Linked DNA regions of Homo sapiens: region 2 is linked to region 1. The links come from fine-mapping of genetic effects on gene expression. Tissue or cell type: prefrontal cortex. Region 1 holds a variant in brackets; the other region holds the start of a gene. All regions are shown on one strand. Distances are from middle to middle.

Region 1 (5,373 bases):
CCTACAGAGTGTGGACAAAGCCGCCGTGGGCTTAGGGACTTGCCACCTTGGAGGTTAGGTTTTTTCCCTGCAGTGTGCTCAACCCTGCTTTCTTTGTGGAGCCACAGACTTCCCCTTCTGCAGAGTCATGGGCTGAGTGGCCTGTCCCCAGAGACAGCACTGTCTCTCCTCTAAGCCAACAGAATGAGACCATTGTTTTCATTAGCTCCTGCCCCTTTAGCCTGGGATCCACCTCAGTGTGGATGAAGACAGAGGCGAGACTTTCCCTCATTTCAGTTTTGTTGCAGTAACTGCTGGAGCCGAGGCGTCGCAGGGAAGAAGCCATATGAGTTCACAGGGAGGGAAGCGGCTGTGCGTGCTCCGCTGCGGGGGTGGGAGGGGGTGGGGTAGGGAGGTCTTGGCAGCTCCTCTCGGTTAGATGGGTGTGATTGTTCTGTAACCGAGTGTGTTCCAGACAGTCTGTTTGACTGTTTGTCCTCTAATTCATTACTTCAGTTTGGCCCTGCCTTCATGATACATGTGTTAATCACTCTGTTTCTAAAACAAAATTGGAAACAGTTCCTGCAGCCTCACTGGGACCCTGGGTGGCCGCCACGGGCACCCACATTCTTTGTTGAATCTGGCCCCTTGGTGCTCTTTGGGGCTGCTTAAAAGACTCTGTTTCTCCCACCTTAGGAGCTGCCAGCCCCTCAGATCCGGAGCTGGTGGAGAGCACAGCAGCGTCAGCGCAGGCCACCGTGGGAGGGAGGGAAGGGGACTCGTGTATGCAGAGCCATGTCTGAACTGAGCTCAGGGCTAGAGACCCACACAACAGCGGGGAAGACGGGGTTGATAGTTTATAGTTTGAGCTCCCTGAGGGGCTCCTGAGGACTTCGGAGAGGTTAAGAAATGTGTCTCAGGTCCCTGCTAATAATTAGCAACATCTGGCTTCAGAGCCTGTGCTCTTTCTTCTATCCTGTTTGAACCGCATGGCACCCATCACCCCACTTCTCAGGTTGCCTTGTGGACCAGGTGATATTTGAGGGTTGTGTTAGAAGGGGACTAGCTAATGCAGATACTAATACTAGCTAGTGAGCCCAGTGTGAACAGTGTCTGCTCTGTAGAAAGATTTTTTTCCGACCTGAAGTAGTAGGACCACCCTCCTGCGTGGTTATTCTGGATCATGCCTGTTCCTCCTCAGGTTTATTTCTCTCCATCTATGTTATTTATGATTTACTTGTTCCTTGACACTGGAGACCATGTTGGTTTCATTCACCTCTGCGTCTGCAGTGTCCTGGCCCGTGCCTGGCACTCACTGAATCCTCGTGGTTTGTTGTTACAGCTTAGCTGTATGCTTCCTCAAGGCAGGAATTGGGGCTGCACACTCACCATTTTCCCCAGCACTGAGAATAGTGTCTGGCATAACGAATGAAAGTGAGTAAACAAAGGTATCCACTTGAGGCTTAGTACTGTTATGCAAAAAGCACTGGCTTTGGAGTTAGAATGTGGCTTCTCGCCCTGCTGTCACTCCTCATCTGGCCCTCAGCTTCCCCAAGTAGAGTAAGTCCCTCTTGCTCCAGGTCTGACCAGTGGTTCTCTGTGTACATGAGGTGTGTGAGGTTCCTGAAGATGGAACTTGAGCTACTCAGAGGAGCTCATTGGGCATCCACAGCTGCAAAGGGTTAGAAGTCAAACCTTTTCATTTCTTTCCTTTGGTTTTACTTCTTAGATGAATCTTTTTTTCTCACTATAATGTGAAAAGATAGTTGGTTTCTTTTTCTGCGAAATAGACAAAGAGGTATATTTTGGTGCAGATCATTCCTCAGCCTTGCAAAATTACCCTGAAGCCCTTACTAAGCGCACAGGGATACATGTCCCCTTCACCCCACTCTTAGTAGTATTGGGGCAATACTTTAGGTCACACACTTTTAATGCATGTTTAATTCCTGGAGTCCATTAAAAATAAGAGGGCCAGGGAGTTACCCAATCAAGAATTCATTGAGTTCTGGTGCCCAGAGGGCTTATGTTCCCACGCTGGCCTTTGCAGTAGTGATGATGATCTTTCCCCCAGCACTACCGTATTATCCAGCATCATCTGGGAGCCCCTGGACACAGCCATCATGCAAGCACATGGCAGCTGGTGGCATAAAGAATCCACTGCACCCCCACCTCCACCCCCAGACCTGCCCTGCAATTGCACAAAAAGGAAAACAACCATAATCATCATCCTGATGAGAATGATAATAGGCACTTAGAGCTTTCACATCTTTTATCCAAGGGATACAATATGCTCTCCCAAAAAATTTTTATTCCAGTGTTGTGGGAAGTAGAAGGGGCACAGTAGTGGAGTTGGCGAGATGCTGTAGTGACAGGAATGAGGGAGAAGCCAAGGGGTCTGGCCTCTGGAAGGTCCCTCTCCTGAGGGGCAGCCTGAGTCCTCTGTGGGCTTCTACTAACACCTTCCTCTCTTTTTTTTTTTTTTTTTTTTTTTTTGCATTCAGCATGATCTACACTTTAGTGAGCTCTTAACGCAAAGACCATGCACATCATCAGAGACTGAGATGGGAGAGGCCTGAGACGGAGAGGTGCATTTCTGCTGGTGACTGGAGGAGGGACCAGAATGAGGATACGTGAGAAATAGACCCGGCAGGCAGTCAGACTGAATGGGAGCTGGAATCACGCAGCAG[C/T]TGGGAGCCGAGTTAACCCTGCGTGTCTGTGTCACCCTGTTTGTCAATCTTTGGCATTCGAATTCCACACACGGGGTCCTAGAGCCCTTCTGAGCATCAGTGGTGTGGGGGAGTAGGTGACGAAACACTAGACCTCTCCTGAGAGAGAATTGCTGCTTCCTGAATCCACTTCATTGAACAGCACCTTGCAAGTTCAAATGAGTTCCTGGGAGCGGAGGCTGGAAGGCCACAAGGTGCTTGCTAAGGAACAGAATGACCCAGAGTCAAGGCCAAGTCTGCAGGGACCTGTTGAAAGCCTCGAGAATGTCTTGGCTGCCCAAGACTCTTGTTGCCTTTCTTCCAAGCCATGGCCATGCCCTTTTTCTCAAATGGGAGGGGCTGGAGGGTGTGTGGGATTTGTCTTCAGCTGCAACCAGCCTTGAGCCTGCTGGGCTATTTTCAGCTGAGGAGGGGTGAATATAGGAAAAATGCATTTTTGAAACGTTTGCAACATGATCAAGGTGTTAGTTCTCCACCACACAAGTTGTATTCTTCTTTTGCCACCTCAAACCATCACAGAGTCTTTAAATGCAAATCAATTGGTCAATGCTAGTCAAAGCTATGTTCTTACAAAAACCCCAGACAGCTCAGAGCTCAGAAAATCCTGTGGAGTGGCTGCTCTGTACCGTGGGCATCCGGCAGCCAGGAAGTGAGACAACATAATTATAACTTTGTTTTATGATGCTGCATCATTTGTACTGTTTAGGTCGACGTGAGGACATCATCTTATTTAGAATTTTCCGTTTGGCATTCTCTTTTGGGTGGGAGTTATGCTGGGGGTTGTAAATAATGACAAGGCTGAGATTTTTATGATGTTTAAATTGGGCACAATGATTTTGACCTTATTCCCCAAACTTCTTTTCTTTTCTACTGTTTAACATACACAGGCTATTTATACACGTCCCCAGCTCCCATCTGAAACCTGTGACTCAGGTTTATGAATGGTGTTTGTGTAGCAACACATTGTGTGCTATGTTTATTAAAATGCAGCGACAACTTGAGTGTCTCACTTAACTGGCTCTCTCATTTCAACCATTACAGCTGAATTTGTCTACATATGGTTGGAAAACTGATAGGAAGAAAAGGCAAATTTTCAAAAAGGCATCATGCTGCTAAAAATTCTGTGGAAAACAAAATGCAGACTTTTACTCTGAGGTTTATGGTATAAAACTGGAGAATTTGAGGTGATGATTTTGGGAGAAGGCTTCCTCTTGGCCAATGCCCTTTTTACCGACCAGGTAACTGTTGTTAGGGATAGAGTTACCTTTCGGCTGCTTGGGCCTGGCTTTGGCTTCATTCCTGAGAAGACTAGTGACCCTCATCCAGAGAGGCAAGCCTTGGATGGCAGGCTGCAGACGCTAATCTAATCGCACAGCCGTCCTGCAAATGCAACTGGATGTAGAAGGTGAATGGTCTGTGTTACTTCTCACCATGGAGCTGTTTTGTTTCTATACTCTGTCTTCTTTCAGAAAGATTTGTAGTGGCTCATAATAGGAGACACAAGTACACAAAGACCATTAAAATGGAAGTAGAAATGTCTTTTTTTTTTTTTTTTTTTTTGAGATAGGGTCTCACTCTGTCGCCCAGGCTGGAGTGCAGTAGTGCAGTCATGGCTCTCTGCAGCTTTGACCCTCCTGGGCTCAGGTGTTGCTCCCACCTCAGTCTCCCGAGTAGACTACAGGTGCACACCACCATGTCTGGCTAATTTTTGTATTTTTTGTAGAGATGGGGTTTTGCCATGTTGCCCAGGCTGGTCTCAAACTCTTGGACTCAAGCAATCTGCTCACCTTCACCTCCCGAAGTGCTGGGATTATAGGCTAAGCCACTGCCACTGGCCTGACAGCTCTTATGTTTATGAAAGAGAAACATCCAGATATTTCCCTCCGACAAGTTGTGATTGGGAAGTAATTCTCGTGATCTGTTGGGAGTTTCAGTGAATTTTCAGTTCCTGGGAGAAGCTAATCATGATGATAAAGATAAGAGTAAAGGGCACAGTTGATGGGGCACGTGCTGTGCGCCAGGCACTGTGTTAAATGCTCACGGGGTGACCTCACCCACCCCTCACAGTGATCATGCACAGCAGGTTAGCTGTTCTCGTCCCCACGTCACCCATGAGAGAACTAGGGAGCCTCAGGGAAGGTGAGTCTTCCCTAGGTGAAGTAGCGCAGAACAAGGCCTTGATGCTACGAAGAAGTGGCCAAATAATGACAGTTATAAACCAAGGCACCTGGCAGTGATCTAGATGCTTCATATGCTTTTCCCTGATCCTCATGACAGTACCACAAGGTGGATATGATCTCTCTTTTATAGATGAGGAAACTGAGAAGAGGAGTCACTTGCAGAGAGCCACAGCTAGCAACGGGTATGTCTAGCTGTAGCTGGGATTTAAACCCAAGTCCGCCTCTTCTCACATAATTTTGTTCTTATTGCCCAGTCTCTTATTGTGTATCCCACAGAAGTGACCAAAGGGAAGAAGAGAGGAAAAGCAGGAGAAACTCCTCTGTTTTCCAAAATACAAAGTGAATATTTTCCTTGAGAGACAAAAAGCTCACCTTTCCAAGCATGCGTCAAGGAGAGAGCTTCCCAGTGGGGCAGAGTCAGCTCCTGAAGATGGTGTTGGTGAACTGGTTCCCATTCTTTAGAGAGGTAGAGCTATAGGCCTGGTGTG
Region 2 (5,373 bases), 26 kb after region 1:
TATTTATTACTTTTTTCATTCACAAATAAAAATTTTATACATTTCTTGTGTACAACATGATATTTTGAAATATGTATACATTGTGGAGGGGCTAAATCGAGCTATTTAACATATGCATTACCTCACGTACTTACCATTTTTTGTGGTAAGAACACTTAAAATCTACTCTCTTAGCGATTTTCAAGACTCCAATAGATTGTTATTAATGAAAGTCACCATGTTGTACAATTGTTCTCTTGAATCTTTATACTTCTATATGGGCTGGTCATTGGGTTCAGGCTGCTTCTGAAAAGGAGGTGTGACCTGGGGAGGCAGCAATCTTTGGTCAAAGGCAATTCCCAGAGAGGGCTATTCGCTGAGGGCTGTCAGCCAGCAGCACTCACCATGGAGGGAGAGAAGACCTTCAGTCCCCAAGATGGATCTTGGAGGCTCATGACAGCATTCACTGCATGGACCTATATTTCATACATTTCCGGAAGCAGCATCTCCAGCATTCCCACAGCCTTGTTCCCTGGCAGGGTAAAATAAAGATTAGTGGGACAAACTACAGCTTCCATCACAACTGATACTCATTGTCTCTCTCATCCTCAGGAAACACCTCTGCTGGTTGAGTCACACTTCTTGCCGGTTGGTGTGACCTAGACCCTCATCTCTAATGACTCCAGTCCCTGGACATTATGCCTTCCTCAGGCTCTGGTTGATGAACTTGCCCATTGATCATCAAAACTGGTCAGAGGAAGTGCCAGGAGGTGCACAGTGGATCATCTGGGTGCCAGATTTCTTTGTCCCTACTGGGCACAGCAGCTGTCTTTCCTCCTGCTGGTCAGGGCCAATTTCCTCTGCCAAGATGGTGACTCCGCTTCTTGTGAGGTTCCTTGGCACAGGCCCCAAGTGTCCTGGCAGCATGTGCTACATCCTTTGGTAGGAAGGTTCCCCCTCTGGAACCTGGACCTCTAAACCTGAAAAGCCCAGAATAGAAGGGATAGGAAGCACAAAGTCCCCAGTGGGTTACAAGCAGTGACAGTAAATGGGGCCATGCCACTATAGTTTCCTACTACTGAATCCTGGAATTAGGTTTGGTAACTCACGCAATCATAGCCCAGCTGGGCCTGGGAAGAGTGAAGCAGGGTGGATCAGAGTTACATCAGCTTCCTCCTCCTCCCTTACCCCTGACTTCGTTCTCATACAAGGATAGAGTTCGCTCCTGGAAGAACAATGGAGGATGTGTACTATTTGGGGACAGTTCCTTTTTTTTTTTTTTTTGAGACGGAATTTTGCTCTTGTTGCCCAGGCTGGAGTGCAATGGCACAATCTCAGCTCACTGCAGCCTCCACCTCCTGGGTTCAAGCGATTCTCCTGCCTCAGCCTCCTCAGTAGCTGGGATTACAGGCATGTGCCACCATGCTCAGCTAATTTTGTATTTTTAGTAGAGACGGGGTTTCTCCACGTTGGTCAAGCTGGTCTCGATCTCCCGACCTCAGGTAATCCTCCTGCCTTGGCCTCTCAAAGTGCTGGGATTACAGGCATGAGCCACTGTGCCATCTGACAGCTTTATTCTTAAGAGGAAAAGGGAGCAACTGAGCCAAGCATTTCCAATTTGCTCTTCCCAAGTTAATCGATGAGGTATCACACGACTTTCCCTGTGGCAGAGTGAGTGCAGTGGTAGAGAGATGCTGACAGTGTTGTGCTAATGGGGCTCCCTCCACTTGGAAGGAAACAGCAAGAATTGTGAAGAATTTTCTTTCTTCAAAAGCTCCAAAGTGTTGTTTATTGAGCACTTACTCTTTGCCAAGCTTCCTGCTCAGTGTTTTTCTTATCTTCACAACAGTCCTTTGAGGTGGGGGCTATTTTTGCCTCCAGTTTATTGATGATTAAGTAAAGTACAGGGAAGTAAATAAATTGGCTGAGAGTCTAACCCAGTCAAGCCCCCAGTCAGGCCCCCAGGCCTGGATCAACAATGGTTGACCCAGGCTCCGAACCACTAATTTAGTAGCTCTTTTGCCGGTTTGCTTAGGAATCATCTGGGGTAGTTTGTGATAACTCAGATCCTGGACCCACCTTCAAAGATTCTGATGGGCTTGAGGCAAGGCCCAGAAATCTGAATTTTTTAAAAAAATTCAATTTAATTTAATGTTAAGTTCTGGAATACATGTGCAGGACGTGCAGGTTTGTTACATAGGTAAACATGTGCCATGGTAGTTTGTTGCACCTATCAACCCCATCACCTAGGTATTAAGCCCTGCATGAATTAGTTATTTATCTTGATGCTCTCCCTTTCCCTGCACCCCCCATGACAGGCCCCAGTGTGTGTTGTTTCCCTCCCTGTGTCCATGTGTTCTCATTGTTCAGCTCCCACTTATAAGTGAGATCATGCAGTGTTTGGTTTTCTGTTCCTGCGTTAGTTTGCTGAGGATAATGGCTTCCAGCTTCATTCATGTCCCTGCAAAGGACATGATCTTGTTCCTTTTTATGGATGCATAGTATTCCATGGTGTATATGTACCACATTTTCATTATCCAGTCTATCATTGGTGGGCATTTGGGTTGATTCCATGTCTTTGCTATCATGAACAGTGCTGCAATGAACATATGAATGCATGCATCTTTATAATAGAATGATTTATATTCCTTTGGGTATATACCCAGTAATGGGATTGCTGGGTCAAATGGTATTTCTGGTTCTAGGTCTTTGAGGAATCACCACACTGCCTTCCACAACGGTTGGCCTAATTTACATTCCCACCAACAGTGTAAAAGCGTTCCTATTTCTCCAGGAATCTGAATTTTTAACAGGTTCCTCTTTATCCCTCTGCCAGGAGAATATGATTTAAGTGACATGACTTCCATCCTTTGAGAAATACTTCATGATACTATACTTTCTTCTCATGTGTAAGCCCAGGGCATGAAAATGAATAATTGCTACCCAATAATTGGGCATCTTTTCTGTTTCCACTGCTGGAAGGAGGGGCAGATGGGTTGGAGGAGCACAGTGTGAGGATAGGCAGGCTCAACTTGCTTATGGAGCACAGATCACCAAAGATAATGCAGCACACCGTTGGCAGAGGGCTAAACCATGTGGCTCAGACTGGAAACACACTGAGAATTTAGAAAATGGAGCCACCACTTTAGTGGGACCTGAGTGGTCAGCGAAGGAGTTAGTAGGCGAGCTGGGCTGGTGAAGGGGATACAGCAAGTGGGAGAAGGACAAGGAGGAGCTACTTGGAGAATATGTCTAAGGGAAGAAGGTTAGACGTGGGGAGCTGGAAGAACAGATGTGATATGGGAAGAAGAAGAAGCAGAGACACATGAGATCATGCTGGCAGTAAGCAGGTGCACAGTAGCACGGGGGTGTCAGCCTCCTCATTGTGGAAAGCATGAGCCTTAGCCCCAGAAGAGCAAGAAACATCCACAGACAGCCTGAGAAACCATGAAGACCAAAGAAGGGACAATGGAGCAGCAGCATCCAGTGGATGTTCAACAAGCATGTATTGCGCGTCAGGCATCGAGCCAGTACTTACGATGCAGAGAGGACTAAGACTCTGTTCCCACTCTCCATAAGACACTACCAAAGTGTAGAGTTAGGGAAGACAGCTTCAATGTGTTCATTTCTTTCATATATTTAACTAAGCTTTTTTTTAAGTTTTATTTTCTAAGCACATAAGGCAGACTTTGTTAGCTTTGAGGGGAATCTGTGCTGGGTAGGGAGGTGGTAAGAAAAGGATGAAAAGAGAAACAGTCTTTTCTCCAAGCAAGTTAATGCTTGAATAGGGGGAATAAGACATAGTAGGATGTAGACACTAAGACTGGATTCTAATCTTCTGGGATTCCAAGTTCTTCTGCATGAGCTTAATGACAATGAGATTGCTTGTGACTTCACTCCTCGCCTTGACCACACAGATGGAAGGTTTTGGCTGTGTTAGGTCAATGCATGGGGAAAGGTGTCAGCTTCCCCACCGTGCAGTCAGTGTTGTGCAAAAGCAGAGGCAGGATCTGAGGGCAAGACAAACTGGGGGCTCCTGCTTGATTGTCTCACCTGCCCCTCTTTGGCAGCGGGTTGTGTCCCTGGCCTTTTAGACCTAAGCAGAGAGGGAATTTCAAGTCAGGTGGCGCCTGTACAGTCTATGGAATAGGTAGTTAATGAGGTCTGGAGTTGATGTTGCCTTCCTCTCCTTCTCTGATCACTTTCATGTCACTCACCCATCCCAGATGCCATGGTGTTCTCAATGCCCCAGTTCTGGGGTTTCCTGCCCCACTCCACCTTTCCTTTCCTGATCCTCAAGAAAACTGACTTCTTTTCCTAAGCCCCCCGTCTCCACTTTGTGAGGGGCATTCTGAGCATGGAGGCTAATCAATATGTTCTCAGTATCCAATGGAAGCCTAACGTGCCACCTCTTCCAAGGGCAGTGCATTTTAACTCAGACCCAACGCCCCAACCAAATGAAAGATCTCTAATCTGGAATTTTCAACAATGGGGCTGGTGGGTCAGGGTGCACCAGATCTCAGGAGGTTTATCCAGAAGACTTTCAAGTGCCCCAAGAGGCTGAGTGGTCCGCCAAGTGCCTGCATGTGTGCAGTCAGGAAGCTTGAGTCTGGGTTCTGCCTGGGGCAAGTCACTACAACTCCCAGAGCCTCATTTCTGCTATTCGTAAAATGGAGAAGACACCTCCTATGATATCAAGTCACTGACTTGTTCCCAGGTAAAAATGAGATGGAAAGCTGTTTTGTGAACCAAAATGCATGCTTTTGTTACAGTGCGGGGATGCTGGCTGGCAACGGCTGTGAAGTGCAAGGCTGGGGGAGGCAAGAGGGTGCTGGTGGGAGGAGAGCTGCAGAAGCAGAGTAATCTGCAGAGCTAAAGCAGGCTGTGCAAGGAAGGGGCAGGTGGCCTTTCCAGAAATCTGTACAAGGCTGTCTAATTGCACACAGAATGGGATTTAATGCAACCTGCATGACAGTTCCCTGCCTCCAGCCCCTCCTTCCATCACCCCTGCAGCTGATGGAGAAGTTGAGTTTAGGAATTAAAAGGGTGATTTTGCAGGAGCAGAAGTTATTTCTGCTACCATGTCTCTTATCATTAAAAAAAGAATAGAGAAACTTCCAGAAACGTTATTTTGAGGAGAGGGGCTTGGTTCACCTGCTGACAATGAGGCAGTGAGAAGAAGACACTAGAGAAGGCAGCTCTACATGCACTGTAGGCCTGAAGGACCCCACAAGACTGCCCGCTTGGGCTGACCTTAGCAAAGACTGGACCAGCTTGGTAATTATTCAGAGACTATTAAGTGCATGTTGCCTGTGGATTAATTAGCTTAGAAGAATGAAGGAATTAAGTGGCATCTTAACATGATGGGAGGCTTTACGGTATTATGAACCACAA

Direction of the effects. Alleles are on the strand shown, and positions count from the first base shown. SD is a standard deviation of normalised expression in the study named.
For the expression in prefrontal cortex of the gene that starts at base 2,733 in region 2, allele C in region 1 goes with a lower level than allele T (small effect, 0.30 SD a copy in ROSMAP).

Evidence for each region.
Region 2: it holds the start of LINC02813, and the variant in region 1 is fine-mapped to the expression of LINC02813 in prefrontal cortex (ROSMAP, PIP 0.95).

What each region holds. Positions count from the first base shown.
Region 1 is chr1:224,736,849-224,742,221 of GRCh38, forward strand. CNIH3 (cornichon family AMPA receptor auxiliary protein 3) reads left to right here. Exons shown (of 6, transcript NM_152495.2): 6 at 2,481-3,706. The coding sequence ends at 2,508. Among named protein-coding and RNA genes, the nearest start is that of CNIH3-AS1, 8.9 kb to the left of the region's middle. RefSeq lists an enhancer at 344-393. The variant C/T (reference allele first, on the strand shown) is at 2,667.
Region 2 is chr1:224,762,458-224,767,830 of GRCh38, forward strand. It overlaps LINC02813 (long intergenic non-protein coding RNA 2813), which reads left to right and starts at 2,733. Exons shown (of 3, transcript XR_001738495.2): 1 at 2,733-4,696. It overlaps LOC124904523 (a long non-coding RNA gene), which reads right to left and starts at 511. Exons shown (of 2, transcript XR_007066898.1): 1 at 384-511; 2 at 1-303.